4 linked regions of the Homo sapiens genome follow. The protein of the gene in region 1 purifies or fractionates together with the protein of each later gene. This does not show direct contact. Each region holds a gene or a part of one and is shown on either strand. Other genes may lie near its edges.

Region 1 (5,428 bases):
AGACCAACAATCATTAATGAAAACCTTGTAAATTATTTTAGATTTTCAGGAACACCATGCCATTCCCTCATTTTCTACTTGTCATTCAGGTTGATTTCAATGTGAAAATGTTTTGTGAACAAACACTTATTTTTATCCTATGTGTTAGCCTCGCTTCATAGTTAAAAAGCCGAGTTATAAAGCTCTTAATTACATCTCAATTGGTATCAGCAATAGACCTAAAGGAGAGGTATTGATTGTTACTAACCTCTGTTTCCTAATGAGTTAAAGTAATGTCACTCATGACATAGATTGATAACAGGCCTGTAGTCAAAACTTACTGTGCTAATGGACTTATTTATATTTTTTAAAAATTCAAACTGTGGTCTTGAACCCCAATTCTCAGCTTATTAATTATAGATTATTTAATTGTATTAGGGATATGTCATGTTATATTTACTTTTGGATAAAACTTGCATTAGATGCATAATAACTCAGTAAGTTTTAAAAACAATGTTAATTTTTCCTTGTTTAGAAGTTAAGCACCTTATCAAGATATTAAGTTTTAAAATCTTGTTTTATAACTTTGTAACTTGAGAGTAATGGATGCTGTAGTGATGTCTTTCACATATGTGAAGATGAACAATAAAATTGTTTATTTACAAGTAATGGCTCTAATTACTTTTCTGGCAACACCTTTTATAATAAGGTTAGGAATACTATCCATTTATGAAGTACCTTTTCAAATAATTAATCTGCACTTATACACATTTATAATGAGTAAATTCAATAATAGAAATGATGACAACTGAATGAATGGGACACTTGACACCAGGCCTTTTATGTGGTATGTCCAACATGCTGTCTATAGAGCATTGAAGGTGCCCTACTTAATACCAAATATGCACTTTTCTTCCCCAGCAAAATTTGACTTGTATCTCAGTGGGAACAGAATTATTTATTTATTTAGTCCCCAGAAAATGATCGTTCATATTCCAGAGAACTGCAGACAGCAGACCTGATAGTTATTCTCCACAAGATATGGAAGTAAAAAGATTTCTTGGGGACAAGCATGTTGTTTATAGTGCTAGCAGTCTGATTCTTTATAAAGGCCTATGGTAGAATAGATTTTCAAAAAATGCATATTATATATTTTGCTCTCAGATAAGTATATCAGAAAGAGATAGAAGTATTGCAGAACCATAGATTGCAAATTCATCCAATGTAGTTATTTTCTCTTGTTTTGAAAAATGGACACATTCACACATATTTTAACATATGTAGGAAATTTTACAGCCAAATGAATAAAAATGATCTTTTATGAAAGAACTGACAAAGTTCTAATTTTTTTTTAAAAGTATCAGTTGGCAGGAAGAAGGTAAAAACTCTCATCTAAGAATGCGACGTATTTTGTTTTTAAATCCAATGTTTTTAACTTACACTTTATCTCTTTGGTTTTTTTTTTGTTGTTGTTGCTTGTTTTGTATTGTTTTTTAGTCTTTTAACTCTATATTGCTGGTGGCTCTGATTTCATGATGCATTGTGCTTATGAAACTCTAGCTTTCAGCACTAAAATGAGTTAAAGATAATGTTTTGTTAATTTGGTCATTGTTTTTCCTGTTCAGATCTTTCTTTAAAGGGAATCTGTCTACTTAGACCTTTACATTCAACTTAAAAGAAAAGATTTTATAAGAAAACATCTAAAATCAAAAGCTTAAATGTATTCCTCTAATCCTTTAAAACATGAAAATGCTGTTTATTTTTCGAATTATTGTCATTGGCAATTATGGTTCCTAAAGGGGTATATTTCTATTTAATACTGAAAATATTTGTCCAGTAAGATAACATTTTATGTTCCGAAAATATTATGAATAATATATTTTAAAAAATGAATTTAGACTGAAAGTTGACAGCATCCCTTTAAAGACAGCCTATTCAACTTTTAGTTAATAATTTGTGGGGTTCTTTTTGGTTTTTCATTTGTAATAGAAATGTTATATGTTGCTTAACAATGTTTCTGGATACTAAAGTTGCTTAACAGTCAAAATAGAATACAAGAACAAAAATGAAGAAGCCAAAATAAAAATATCAATTTTTTATTATTTATTCAGGCGATTTCACCTAAACCTCAAAGTCAGAAAAAAAATGAAGCTGACATTAGCAGTTCTGCCAACACTCAGAAACCTGCACTGTTATCCTCAACTTTGTCTTCAGGGAAGGCTCGCAGCAAGAAATGCAAACATGAATCTGGAGATTCTTCTGGGTGTATAAAACCCCCTAAATCACCACTTTCCCCAGAATTAATACAAGTCGAGGATTTGACGCTTGTATCTCAGCTTTCTTCTTCAGTGATAAATAAAACTAGTGAGCACAGATTTTTAAAAAATAGTTATTTATCCTATAAGATACATTAAAAACAGTTTGATTGTAGTTATATTGTATTTTTATGAAGTTGCTTTTTAAAAACTCAAGTGGATATGATAGGGAAGGCTTGAAACTATTTCAGGGGCAAAAACCATAGACATTTCTTACTGATTTATTGCTTAGAGACTACTGCTGGTTGAGAATCCTTTCCATTTAATAACACAGATTCCACTGTAGTTTGACTCTCCTCAACTCATAATCCAAGCATACTGAGAGGCCTGATTCATTACAAAAAAAAAAAGTTATAAAAAGACCCAGGATAGCTATTTTTACTTAAGACTATTCCTGTAGATTTTTTGTCCCCACTTGTCTATAACTTTCCTCTGCAATACATTTTATTCATTCTTATTATAATATTTATAGTCTAGACTTCAGTTTAATCTTTTTAATGAAAAAAAAATGCCCCCATGATTGTATTTTTAAAGATTTTACTGTTTCAGTACTTCTAATTTTTCAAGAGTTAACGCAGTCTTTTTCGAAAACACCTTTCACATGGGTATATCTATCTATCTCCCTATATATCTGTATATATAAATAATACAAGATTTGTGTTGACCCTGAGTTTCTCATATTAGTTTAGTATCCTAAGTTGGAGACATGAATAACAGTTATTTGAAAAGTCAGTTGGTAAATGATGGTTTTTTTTGCTCTTTATGCAAAAAATGAAATACATGATCAGTTGAGTGAATATGACATGTTTCCTTATTCCATATTGTGTCTTCCAGAATAATCAAAGATGTTGGCATTCAGAAGACTTTTATCAAACTTATTAACCTATTTTCCTTCAGTTGCCATATTTTCTACTGAATCATTTTTTCATTTTGATCAGGTTTTGCTTTTTCTTTTTAATAGGTGGAAAGAATGGGAACATAATTCAATTGTTTTCCTAATAAGCTTCATTTCATTATGGCATTTATCATGAAATAGTGTCAGTAGTAGTCACTGGAATGTCATATGACATTAATAAACATTTTATTTTGGAAATTATATCTTGGTATTATAACCACAATATTATAGCAATTAAATTTTATTCTTTCATATTTTTAAGTTATCAGCATGTCTTTTTCGTTTTGATTGTAAAATTACTCTTAAATACCCAAACATCAATGTCTTTAGACTGTTCTTATTTCCTCTTTCTAAATTAACATGAATATATTGGCATATATAATCTTGCCTATTCTAGTCAAATGTGTTTGTATGCCATGTAGAAAGAAGATATCTAAAAGTGTGAGAGACATTTCCAAATATTTATATTATATTGCTAGAAGATGCCTAAATTACTTACCAAGTTGTTAAAAAACACAAGTACACAATGTCATAATCTTAAATATCCTCATTATTTGCTCACAATAAGTATACAAAGTTGTTTTTGTTCATTTTTTTTTTTTAATGAATCAGGCCCAGACATGTTTATAAAACTCCATTTGGGGGGGATGATGATGGGATAAAATTATTTACATTAGTGTAAAGTAAATCACTAACTCTATAATGTTGTATCATCTTTGTCCCTGCCTTTTTTTCCCTTAGAGTTTCTAGATTTGCAATGTAGCAAAAGGAATACATATATATATATTTTTCCTTATCTTTTGCTGTAAAGAGACTATTTTCCCGAAGGAAAAATGGCAATTTACACAACGATCTGCAATTAGAGAAATTAACTGTAGTCTGTCACTTGGGGGAGCTACTTGAAATTAATGTTCCATTTTATTTTCTTTTAGTTCTAGTAGAGTGTAGATTTTACAATTTTTGATTGACTCATTTTGAATGAGGGCACAATTTTTGCCTTTGATTACCTTTGGAACATGCCATTCCTTGTGGATATCTTATAACAACATCAGAGGGAAGAATATAAATCATTTTTTCCCATTTATCTCCTTAAATATTGTAAGATGCTCCTGGTATGTATCTGCTTCGTGAACATTGAAGATCTTTTTCTAGGTCCTCCACAGCCTGTGAATCCCCCTAGACCTTTCAAGCATAGTGAGCGGAGAAGAAGATCTCAGCGTTTAGCCACCTTACCCATGCCTGATGATTCTGTAGAAAAGGTTTCTTCTCCCTCTCCAGCCACTGATGGGAAAGTATTCTCCATCAGTTCTCAAAATCAGCAAGAATCTTCAGTACCAGAGGGTAATGTATATTGATTTCCTATAGAACCAAACATAAAAGAAGATAAAGAAAAAACTAAGAGATAAAGATTATTAAAATATTAAGATATTTCTGCTCTTATATCTTCTGGAGTTATAAGCACTTCACTTATTCTACAAATATTTATTGAGTGCCTTCTTTGTGCCAGGCACTGTTTAAATTATGTAACACTTTAATTCACAGTGATAGTAACTGAGCCATTTTATCTGTGTTAATATTACATTACACTCTTTATTTTGTGTAGTGCCTGATGTTGCACATTTGCCACTTGAGAAGCTGGGACCCTGTCTCCCTCTTGACTTAAGTCGTGGTTCAGAAGTTACAGCACCGGTAGCCTCAGATTCCTCTTACCGTAATGAATGTCCCAGGGCAGAAAAAGAGGATACACAGATGCTTCCAAATCCTTCTTCCAAAGCAATAGCTGATGGAAGAGGAGCTCCAGCAGCAGCAGGTAAAAGAAAAAAAATAAAGGCTCCTATAAGTAGATAAGTAGCTAGGCTTGCAGTTATTAGGTATAAACATTTTGAGGTTTAACTACATTATTTTGATTCCTATATAATTCCTTTTCATAAATACTTTAACATTTATAGGAGAGTTTCATCTCCGTTTTAAAGGTCTTTTGTGTGATCATTTTACAATCATATTCCCTGGACATACATGCTGCTTAACCTTGTCACTTGATCTATTTCCTTCTCCCTGCTTCTTTTTTATATATCCTTATTTCTACTAAATATAAATTATTAGAGCCAAGTATAGTTACAGGAATTCTTACTTTTGAAGCTGGGAAATACTTAATGGGATCAGTACTTTGGTTTAAGGATTTTGATAGAATTTAATATTTAAGAAACACTGAGCTATATGCCTGTATCTTAAATATAAT
Region 2 (3,500 bases), on another chromosome or scaffold:
GGCCAGGTGTTTGGACTAACCTGTAGCATTTTATGTTTCTTGCAGATGTTCCCACAAGCCTGCATTTCCAGAGCATGCTGAAATCTCAGTGGCAGAACAAGCCTTTTGACAAAATCAAACCTCCCAAAAAGTTATCGCTTAAGCACAGAGCACCCATGCCGGGCAGTCTGCCAGATTCAGCTCGTAAGGACAGGCACAAATTGGTCAGCTCCTTCCTAACAACAGCCAGTAAGTGTCAGGGAGCCGGGAAGTCCCCCAGAGTATCAGTGACTTTTCATTCCTTTTATATTCTCAAATTTGTAGTTTGCATGCATGTTGGGGTTGGGAGAGGCAGTTGACCGATAAAAAATTCAGCTCACAGTGACTGCTTCTGCTTGTCTTGGATGCTCTCAGATGGACTTCGGGAGCTATTCTAGACACCATGGATCTTGGAGCAAGACCCAAAATGCTCAGTGAACAGCCAGCAATGGCATGGCATTGAGTTCATCTACGGGCAGGTGTCTTCTGTATCCTGGTGACATGTTTCTCTGGTTCTGGGCTCCCTGTGCCTATCCTAGCCATTGTGCAAATTACTAGAAACTTCAGTCCTGAAGGACTGTCCTGCTGCCCTGGGTATACGGCGTTGGCCTAGAGAGAACTCGAGAGCTTGGAACTCGAATAAGAAAATATTTGAGAGGACATATTTCACAGCTCTTTTTCTGTTCCCCTCTTCAGAGCTGTCCCATCACCAAACCCGGCCTGACAGGACCCACAGGCAGCACTTAGACGATGTGGGGGCCGTGCCCATGGTGGAGCGAGTGACAGCGCCAAAAGCAGAGCGCTTGCTCAACCCACCACCACCCGTGCATGACCCAAACCACAGCAAAATGAGATTGCGAGACCATTCATCTGAGAGAAGTGAAGGTAGGGCCAGGCCCATGGCACCTCTACCTGCAACTGCACCTGCTCAGGGCTTTCTGGGGCAGCCTAGGCTTCTCTTAATTACCCCCAGCTTTGTCCTTCACTTTCTAGGAAAGCAGAGTAGAGGGACGCTACTGCTTCTAAATGGAGGTCACTTCTTAACTGCTACAGCAACCTCTGCCCTGCCCCTACTTCCCACAGCTAGTGTGCTTCACCTTTTTATCCTCTAGGCATAGAAAACATTTTTGCCTTTAGTATGTATTGCTGCCATTCCAAGCTTGTGTTAGAAGTAACGCTGGTTAAGATAGCCATGTATTTCTCTCTTTTCTGTTGACTTCTGCAGTGTTGAAGCATCACACAGACATGAGCAGTTCGAGCTACTTGGCAGCCACCCACCATCCTCCACACAGTCCCTTGGTGCGACAGCTCTCCACCTCCTCAGATTCCCCTGCACCCGCCAGCTCTAGCTCACAGGTTACAGCCAGCACATCGGTAAGTACCTGTGTGGGGTTGGCCGGACACCCCCTCTGCAGGTCACAGCTCACTCAAGTGGCTCCAGAGGACAGTGTGAGGGTGGGTTATAAAGCCCAGGGCATTTATAGGATCTCAGCTCATCATGACATATGTATGTATGTCTGTACCATTTTTAAGTCAAAGTCATGGTACTTGACCTTCTGTTGTTTTTCTTGAGTTGTTTTTCATAGCAGAGATGGATTTATGCTGAGCCATCCATAGAAAGCTTGATGCAGGGACAAACTCTTAAGGTGATCTGTGACTATTCAAGATCTGTTGGACTAAGTTTCACACAGGACTCAACAGTTCCGTGGCCCTAATCCTGTTGGCCCAAGAAGTGAACAAGAGAGGAGGGGTGGGTAGAGGGGAGATTCCCATGGGCGTTGGAAGCAGTGTTTGATTTCCTTGGTTTTACTCTCTGGGTGAGTGGAGGTGAAGTACTAAGAATAAACACTAGGCGTGAGGGTACCAGAAGAGAAGGGAAGGGAGAAGGCAGAGTCCATGCTTTTTAGGTATACAGAGCAGAATTACAGATCCAGCAGGCCCCCATGGCAGGACATTTGGCATGCACACACCAGATTTTACGATACCACACTCCATCTGGAAGCAGTTTGCACAGCTATTCCAGACACATTTCCTTTAATTTCATTCTAATATTTTAATTCCTCAAGTGTGCCCTCTTGGAACATACATACCTGTAGCTGCTATGGACCTACTCAAAGGGTCCTTTTTGTATAATAATTACAATGTAATGTAATGGTAAATGTAAAAGTCTGCAACTGTAATGTTTATTGAACACTTACTACATACCAGTGATCAGTGATTTACATGTGTTACATGTTATAATGCCTTTTGAGATGTAGGTTGGTACTGTGGATTTCATTTTATATGCATGAAAACTGTCAAGGCAACTTGTGAGGGTTATAATTATGATTCAAACTCAGGCAGCCTGACTGTAGAGCCAGCTCTTTTACCATTACACTACACAGGCTAAGCCTGGGTGAGGGTATTGCAGAGGCAACTTAGGAAGTTCCTTCAGAGCCTAGATCAGGAAACTTCCAAGCTCATAAAATGGACTCACTAGGCTCCTGTGATCAGGTAGGAATTCACATTGTTCTCTCTTTGCTGTTACAAATCAATCTTTTCCAAATGGTCTCTTTGCTCTTCGACTTTCTTTACCCCCGTAACCCACAAATTTTATCTAAATAGGTGTGTAGTGTCCCTCACATACTCAGTTATCCAGCAGCAAAGGGTTTCAGATAACCAAAGTATTTATAAAAAAGAGTCTAAACTAATTCTGATAGAAAATCTGAACTCAGAGATTCAGGACTTGGTGAGCACTTCAATATTTCTGTGTCTGGAGAATGTTAACTTAGGCCTGGATCACTTGAAATTTTTACCATTTATTGAGTAAAAATTTTGTGTATAGCACTATGCTAACCCCTGAGGCTCTCTCATTGCCAAGTTTTTTCAAAGACTCTGGATTTATGTAAAAGAAGATAGGCCAGGCACAGTGGCGCTCACCTATAATCCCAGCACTTGGGGAGGCGGCTGAGGCGGGTGGATCACTTGAGGTCAGGAGTTCGAGACCATCCTGGCCAATAAGGTGAAACCCTATCCCTACTAAAAATACAAAAATTAACTGGGCGTGGTGGCATGTGCCTATAGTTCCAGCTACTCTGAGGCAGGAGAATCACTTGAACTGGGAAGCGGAGGTTCCAGTGAGCGGAGATCAAGCCATTGCACTCAAGCCTGGGCGTCGCAGCAAGACTTCGTCTCAAAAAAAAAAAAAGAAAGAAGATAGGCCAGATAACAGCAGGCTCTCAGTATCTGCAGTATCTGCAGTGGGGATTGGTTCCAGGACCTCCCATAGATAGCAAAAGCTATTGTTGCTCATGTCCCTAATATAAAATGGCATAGTATTTGCATATAACCTATGTGTATGCTTTAAATCCCATATACTTTAAATCATCTCCAGATTACTGATAATACCTAATGCAATGTAAATGCTATAAAAATAGTATGCTGTATTGTTTAGAGAATAATGAAAAGAAAAATCTGTACCTTTTCAGTACAGACACAATTTT
Region 3 (3,500 bases), on another chromosome or scaffold:
AGGCAGGAGAATCGCTTGAACCTGGGAGGCGGAGGTTGTAGTGAGCCAAGATCGTACCACTGTATTCCAGCCTGGGCGACAGAGTGAGACTCCGTCTCAAAAAATAATAATAATAATAATAATAATATAAATAAATAAATAAAAAGGCTTGATTTAAATTTACAAACCAACCTTCCCATCTCTTGTGGCCACAGTTCTTGGAGCCCTGCATTCTGGGTGGGCTGGGAGGCCCCTTGCGTGTGCACCCCAGCCCCGGGTTGAGAGGCCACTGTGTGCCTGTGTGTGCAACAGCCTCCGTCCAGCCTTGCACCCTGGCCTCACCTATGGGGCCCTGCAGCCCTTCCCCCTCCCCGTCCCAGCAGCTCCCCGCACCCGGGGAGGAGAGGCGCGGCCCGGCGCGCCGTGGGACCCCGTCTCAGAAAGGCCACACTTCCTCCCTGTAGGCGAGGAGGATGGCCGAGACCAGTCCAGGTTGGAGACCCAGGTGTGGGAGGCGCACAACCCACTCACAGACAAGCAGATCGACCAGTTCCTGGTGGTGGCCCGGTGAGTCCTGCTCCTGGGCAAGGCCAGCAGGGGTGGTGCCTGGAGCTTCTGTTCTCCCTTCCCTGTGGTGGGTGTTGGGGACGTGACAGTCTTGGATCCCATATCCCAACAAGAAGCCCATGCGCTGCAGCCCTGAGACCCCCGGTAGCAGTTCCCAGAGAGGCTCGGGAGTGCTGGGTCCAGGCCCTTCATTAAATAGAAGGGCGGCCCTTCTGGGGGGCAGGCCTGTGTGCCTGCCCATGTGTCCCTAATGGGGCTTTCCCAGGATGGGCCAGAGGTGCTTTCCCACTCCTGGGCCACTGGGAGCAAGTGGGCTGGGCCTGGTCATGGAGCAGAGCAGCTGCAGCCCGGGCAGACCCCTGGGGCAGGGCGAAGGCCGAGGCCCAGGAGAGGACCATGCACCTTCCCTGCCAGCAGCCTGGGAGGTGGAGAAAACCCCAAAAGAAGCCCCAAGGCGGCTGCCAATCTATCGGGATGCCCTCAGTTAGACGCACACGGGTTCTGGGGTGGGTGCCGGGCCCTACTCCGCAGCCTGGGGCCCAGGACACGAGGAGTCCTCGCCACCTGCGGGCTGCTCCCTGCGATGCTCATGCAGTCTGTCCCTGGTCCCTGGCGCCTGGGGAGCTGTGTGCCTGGGGGGAGTCCGCGCTGCCCGTGGCCCCTGGTCCCTGGTCCCTGGGGAGCTGTGTGCCTGGGGGGAGTCCGTGCTGCCCATGGCCCCTGGTCCCTGGCACCTGGGGAGCTGTGTGCCTGGGGGGAGTCCGCGCTGCCCGTGGCCCCTGGTCCCTGGTCCCTAGGGAGCTGTGTGCCTGGGGGGAGTCCGTGCTGCCCATGGCCCCTGGTCCCTGGCGCCTGGGGAGCTGTGTGCCTGGGGGCAGTCCGTGCTGCCCATGGCCCCTGGTCCCTGGTCCCTGGGGAGCTGTGTGCCTGGGGGGAGTCCGTGCTGCCCGTGGCCCCTGGTCCCTGGTCCCTGGGGAGCTGTGTGCCTGGGGGGAGTCCGTGCTGCCCATGGCCCCTGGTCCCTGGCGCCTGGGGAGCTGTGTGCCTGGGGGGAGTCCGTGCTGCCCATGGCCCCTGGTCCCTGGTCCCTGGGGAGCTGTGTGCCTGGGGGGAGTCCGTGCTGCCCGTGGCCCCTGGTCCCTGGCGCCTGGGGAGCTGTGTGCCTGGGGGCAGTCCGTGCTGCCCATGGCCCCTGGTCCCTGGCACCTGGGGAGCTGTGTGCCTGGGGGGAGTCCGCGCTGCCCGTGGCCCCTGGTCCCTGGTCCCTGGGGAGCTGTGTGCCTGGGGGGAGTCCGTGCTGCCCATGGCCCCTGGTCCCTGGCGCCTGGGGAGCTGTGTGCCTGGGGGCAGTCCGTGCTGCCCATGGCCCCTGGTCCCTGGTCCCTGGGGAGCTGTGTGCCTGGGGGGAGTCCGTGCTGCCCGTGGCCCCTGGTCCCTGGTCCCTGGGGAGCTGTGTGCCTGGGGGGAGTCCGTGCTGCCCATGGCCCCTGGTCCCTGGCGCCTGGGGAGCTGTGTGCCTGGGGGGAGTCCGTGCTGCCCGTGGCCCCTGGTCCCTGGCGCCTGGGGAGCTGTGTGCCTGGGGGAAGTCCGTGCTGCCCATGGCCCCTGGTCCCTGGCACCTGGGGAGCTGTGTGCCTGGGGGAAGTCCGTGCTGCCCATGGCCCCTGGTCCCTGGCACCTGGGGAGCGGTGTGCGTGGGGGAAGTCCGTGCTGCCCATGGCCCCTGGTCCCTGGCACCTGGGGAGCTGTGTGCCTGGGGGAAGTCCGTGCTGCCCATGGCCCCTGGTCCCTGGCACCTGGGGAGTGGTGTGCCTGGGGGAAGTCCGTGCTGCCCATGGCCCCTGGTCCCTGGCACCTGGGGAGTGGTGTGCCTTGGGGGAGTCCGTGCTGCCCGTGGCCGCTGGTCCCTGGCGCCTGGGGAGCGGTGTGCCTGTGGGGAGTCCCTGCTTGGCCGACACTGTGGTCAGCGCATCTCCTTTCCCCAGCTCTGTGGGCACCTTCGCACGGGCCCTGGACTGCAGCAGCTCCGTCCGACAGCCCAGCCTGCACATGAGCGCCGCAGCTGCCTCCCGAGACATCACCCTGGTAAGTGGGCCCAGGGCGGGACAGGTGAGACCTGGGGTGGCCCATGGCCCAGAGTGGCTGCGCCCTTCTTCCTACCAGGGCCCAGCACCTGCCCCAGGTATTCAGGACCCCTGCAGAGGTGCTGTCCCACCTGGACTGGCCTTTCCTATCCACCCCAAACTCGGCCAGACTGTGCTGAGGGTGCAGGGAGGGTTGTGCTGCTGGGCCTGCAGTAGGGGATCCTTGAGGTACTGAGGGAGGGGGTACCGTGCCACAGGTGCAGGAAAAGCCACCTTGGCCCGGGTGACCCTGCTGTCTCCTGCCGCAGTTCCACGCCATGGATACTCTCCACAAGAACATCTACGACATCTCCAAGGCCATCTCGGCGCTGGTGCCGCAGGGCGGGCCCGTGCTCTGCAGGGACGAGATGGAGGAGTGGTCTGCATCAGAGGCCAACCTTTTCGAGGAAGCCCTGGAAAAATATGGGAAGGATTTCACGGACATTCAGCAAGATTTTGTGAGTACCGTGGGTGGCGATGGGGGAGTGGCTGGCCATGCCCATCTCCAGGTAGGCTGCGGGGGTGTGGGCTCCACATCCCACTCTGCCCTGAGGGAGCCTGTCCTGCACCCTGATTCCCTGTGCGGAGCTGCATGAGTTCTGTCTCAGCTGCGCTCGGCCGCCATAGTCCTTCCTGTCACACTGGTTCAGCAGACAGGCATGGGGGCGCTGGTGGGGCCTGGGCATAGAGAGCCATGCTCCTGCCACCATTGCGTGATGAGGATAAGGGTTGGCCCAGGTGACGGAGGCCAGGGTATCCTCACGGAGACTTTCCCTTCCTTGCTGCCCCCTCCAGCCCCAGGCTTGGTTTTGCTTTGTTTTTGACTAAGCT
Region 4 (3,500 bases), on another chromosome or scaffold:
TTTCACCGTGTTAGCTAGGATGGTCTCCACCTCCTGACCTCGTGATCCGCCCGCTTTGGCCTCCCAAAGTGCGGGGATTACAGGCGTGAGCCACCACGCCTGGCCAAAATTTTTTTTTTTTTTTTTTTTGAGACGGAGTCTTACTCTGTCACCCAGGCTGGAGTGCAGTGGCACGATCTTGGCTCACTGCAACCTCCGCCTCCTGGGTTCAAGTGATTCTCCTGCCTCAGTCTGCTGAGTAGCCACCATGCCTGGCTAATTGTTTTTTTTGTTGTTGTTTTTTTTTTTTTTGAGATGGAGTCTTGCTCCGTCGCCCAGGCTGATGTGCAGTGCAGTGGTGTGATCTTGGCTCACTGCAACCTCCACCTCCTGGGTTCAAACAATTCTCCTGCCTCAGCCTCCTGAGTAGCTGGGATTACAGGCATGCGCCACCACGCCCGGCTAATTTTTGTATTTTAGTAGAGATGGGGTTTCACCATGTTGGCCAGGCTGGTCATGAACTCCTGACCTCAAGAGATCCACCCATCTCGGCCTCCCATAGTGCTGGGATTACAGGTGTGAGCCACCACGCCTGGCTAATTTTTGTACTTTTAGTAGAGACAGGGTTTCACCATGTTGGCCAGGCTGGTTTCTAACTCCTCACCTCAGGTGATCCACCCACCTTGGCCTCCCCAAGTGCTGGGATTACAGGCATGAGCCACCGCACCCAGCTAATTTTTGTATTTTTAATAGAGATTGGGGTTCACCTTGTTGGCCAGGCTGGTCTTGAACTCCTGACCTCAAGTGATCTGCCTGCTGCTGTCTCCCAAGATGCTGGGATTACAGGCATGAGCCACCATGCCCAGCTGACATTACTGTAATTGCAGACATTTAGATGTGGGTCTATCCAATTGGATAATAGTGTGCAACAGAGGAGAATGTTCTTCCTTTAGGTATAGTCTCAATAACATTTCTTCCCCTAGGTGCTGCTGATGTAGAGAAGGTGGAGGAAAAGTCAGCAATAGATCTGACCCCTATTGTGGTAGAAGACAAAGGTGGGTGTTTGGAGAAGTTGATTGTGGTTCAGAAGAACTCTAAAACCAGAAGCAAGGACTGTATCTGCCCTGCCTCCCTGTCCATACTCATCTAGCCATTTTATCCCAAGATAAAAGACTGTACCTGTCCCCACATTTAGTTGTCAGTGGGCCAATGGCACCATTTTCTGGGTCTGAGAGACACCCAGGTGGAGAAGGGGTGTAGGTGGATGGATTCTTGTAGCATACAGTGTTCTGGGTAAGGGCGATGGTGCTGGGCTTTGGCTGGAGCTGACATTTTTCTTCCCCATATTCTGTAGAAGAGAAGAAAGAAGAAGAAGAGAAAAAAGAGGTGATGCTTCAGAATGGAGAGACCCCCAAGGACCTGAATGATGAGAAACAGAAGAAAAATATTAAACAACGTTTCATGTTTAACATTGCAGATGGTGGTTTTACTGGTATGGAAATGAGGGGCCCACCAGGGTTAGAAGGATCTGATGTGAAATTGGGGTTCTTGTCAGAAACCACGGTACAGGGACTTTACCTCTTTACCTCTGTTTGATGAGGGAATGCCAAACTGATAGTGGGTTCTGTGGAGAAAGCCAGAAGCAAATTATATGAAATGGATCCAGGGGTAGGGGATGGTGGGGGACAAGAATAAGTAGCTTTTTCAATTCTCACAGATGTTTGCTTCCCCCCACCCCCAACCTTCCCTAAATTCCTCCTCAGAGTTGCACTCCCTTTGGCAGAATGAAGAGCGGGCAGCCACAGTTACCAAGAAGACTTATGAGATCTGGCATCGACGGCATGACTACTGGCTGCTAGCCGGCATTATAAAGTATCCTTTGCCTGAATCTGTACTGAGGCTTTTGGTGAAAGGTTCTGAAGGTCTTTTAGTTTGAGGTTCTTACTTTCCTTGTTTTGTTTTTCCTGAGCACTTTTCCAATAGCCATGGCTATGCCCGGTGGCAAGACATCCAGAATGACCCACGCTATGCCATCCTCAATGAGCCTTTCAAGGGTGAAATGAACCGTGGCAATTTCTTAGAGATCAAGAATAAATTTCTAGCTCGAAGGTTTAAGGTGAGCGGTTGGGGAGGAATATATTGCTTAAGTGACAAACTTGAAAGTGCGTAACGTCCTGCAGCAGAGGGAGTCTGTCCATCCAGCGCACTGTTCTCACTTTCTTCATTCTATGGAAGGCTTTGCTCCCAAGTAACTTACACATTAGGGTTGAAGACACACAGAATTGAAAGTTAACTAACTGTACATGAGCTGTAGGTGACTATGTGTCCAATCAGTGACACACTAGTGCAGAGGGGTTTGTTTGGGGAACACTGCAGATTGGAGTATTCAGGAAAGATATAGAGGTGGGATTGAATTGCATCTCTGAAGATGTAGAGCTATTAGTCAGTGGGCTGCTGGTTGTTTTTTTTTTTTTTTTTTTTTTGAGGCAGAATCTCTGTCGCCCAGGCTGGAATGCAGTGATGCAGCCTCTGCTCACTACAACCTCTGTGTCCTGGGTTTAAGTGATTCTCCCGCCTCAGCCTCCTGAGTAGCTGAGATTACAGGCGCCTGCCACCACACCCAGCTGTTTTTTTTGGATTTTTAGTAGAGATGGGGTTTCACCATGTTGGCTAGGCTGGTCTCAAACTCCTGACCTCGAAGTGATCCACCTGCCTTGGCCACCCAGATTGCTGGGATTATAGGCATGAGCCACCATGCCTGGCCTGGTTCTTTTTTCTGGGCTAAAAAGTGCCTGTGTGGGCCAGGTGCGGTGGCTCACGCCTGTAATCCCAGCACTTTGGGAGGCTGATGCAGGAGAATCGCTTGAAGTCGGGAGGTAGAGATTTCAGTGAGCTGAGATCGTGCTACGGCACTCCAGCCTGTGCAACAGAGTGAGACTCTGTCTCAAAAAAAAAAAAAGACGTGTCTGTTGTCTCGTACGCTGAGTATAATCGGGGAAGAAATGGTACACTAATAAGCCTTCAGGTATTATGTACTAAGCAATGATGTGCCCAGGGATAAAAAGACAAAGCATGGTATCTGTTTTCAAGGAGCTTTCAGTTTCAAGTAGGAGCACATGTGTAATCAAATGAATGCCATTCTGCATATCAGGAGAGAGATTGCTGATTGGCATAAGAAAGTTCTCCAGAATCGCTTGAACCCGGGAGGCGGAGGTTGCAGTGAGCCGAGATCGCACCACTGCACTCCAGTCTGGCGACAGAGCGAGACTCACCTCAAAAAAGACAAGAAAAGAAAGTTCTCAGAGAGGCAGACACAGTGGCTAATCTCAGCATTTAAAAGAGCTGATTGCTTGAGTCCAGGAGTTCAAGACTAGCTCGGGCAACATGGCAAAACCCCATGTCTACAAAAAATACAAAAATTAGCCAGTTCTGGTGGCGTGCACCTGTAGTTCCAGCTACTTAGGAGGCTGCAATGAGCCTAGATTGTGCCATTGCACTCCAGCCTAGGCATTGGAGTGAGA

The links. The genes of interacting proteins can lie anywhere in the genome.
Region 2: the proteins of PHF20L1 (region 1) and KANSL1 purify together in Homo sapiens (affinity purification with mass spectrometry; 3 studies listed by BioGRID and IntAct, with this or other methods). This does not show direct contact.
Region 3: the proteins of PHF20L1 (region 1) and MTA1 purify together in Homo sapiens (affinity purification with mass spectrometry; 2 studies listed by BioGRID and IntAct, with this or other methods). This does not show direct contact.
Region 4: the proteins of PHF20L1 (region 1) and CHD4 purify together in Homo sapiens (affinity purification with mass spectrometry; 2 studies listed by BioGRID and IntAct, with this or other methods). This does not show direct contact.

What each region holds. Positions count from the first base shown.
Region 1 is NC_000008.11:132,812,547-132,817,974, forward strand, and holds part of PHF20L1 (PHD finger protein 20-like protein 1), read left to right. Parts: exon of another isoform or gene 1-644; intron 645-2,090; coding exon 2,091-2,343; intron 2,344-4,341; coding exon 4,342-4,530; intron 4,531-4,792; coding exon 4,793-4,999; intron 5,000-5,428.
Region 2 is NC_000017.11:46,036,430-46,039,929, reverse strand, and holds part of KANSL1 (KAT8 regulatory NSL complex subunit 1), read left to right. Parts: intron 1-45; coding exon 46-228; intron 229-714; coding exon 715-903; intron 904-1,243; coding exon 1,244-1,392; intron 1,393-3,500. UniProt on the Homo sapiens protein: Non-catalytic component of the NSL histone acetyltransferase complex, a multiprotein complex that mediates histone H4 acetylation at 'Lys-5'- and 'Lys-8' (H4K5ac and H4K8ac) at transcription start sites and promotes transcription initiation.
Region 3 is NC_000014.9:105,457,827-105,461,326, forward strand, and holds part of MTA1 (metastasis-associated protein MTA1), read left to right. Parts: intron 1-443; coding exon 444-546; intron 547-2,531; coding exon 2,532-2,631; intron 2,632-2,938; coding exon 2,939-3,127; intron 3,128-3,500. UniProt on the Homo sapiens protein: Transcriptional coregulator which can act as both a transcriptional corepressor and coactivator. Acts as a component of the histone deacetylase NuRD complex which participates in the remodeling of chromatin.
Region 4 is NC_000012.12:6,576,380-6,579,879, reverse strand, and holds part of CHD4 (chromodomain-helicase-DNA-binding protein 4), read left to right. Parts: intron 1-962; coding exon 963-1,034; intron 1,035-1,158; exon of another isoform or gene 1,159-1,327; intron 1,328-1,333; coding exon 1,334-1,471; intron 1,472-1,742; coding exon 1,743-1,851; intron 1,852-1,962; coding exon 1,963-2,095; intron 2,096-3,500. UniProt on the Homo sapiens protein: ATP-dependent chromatin-remodeling factor that binds and distorts nucleosomal DNA. Acts as a component of the histone deacetylase NuRD complex which participates in the remodeling of chromatin.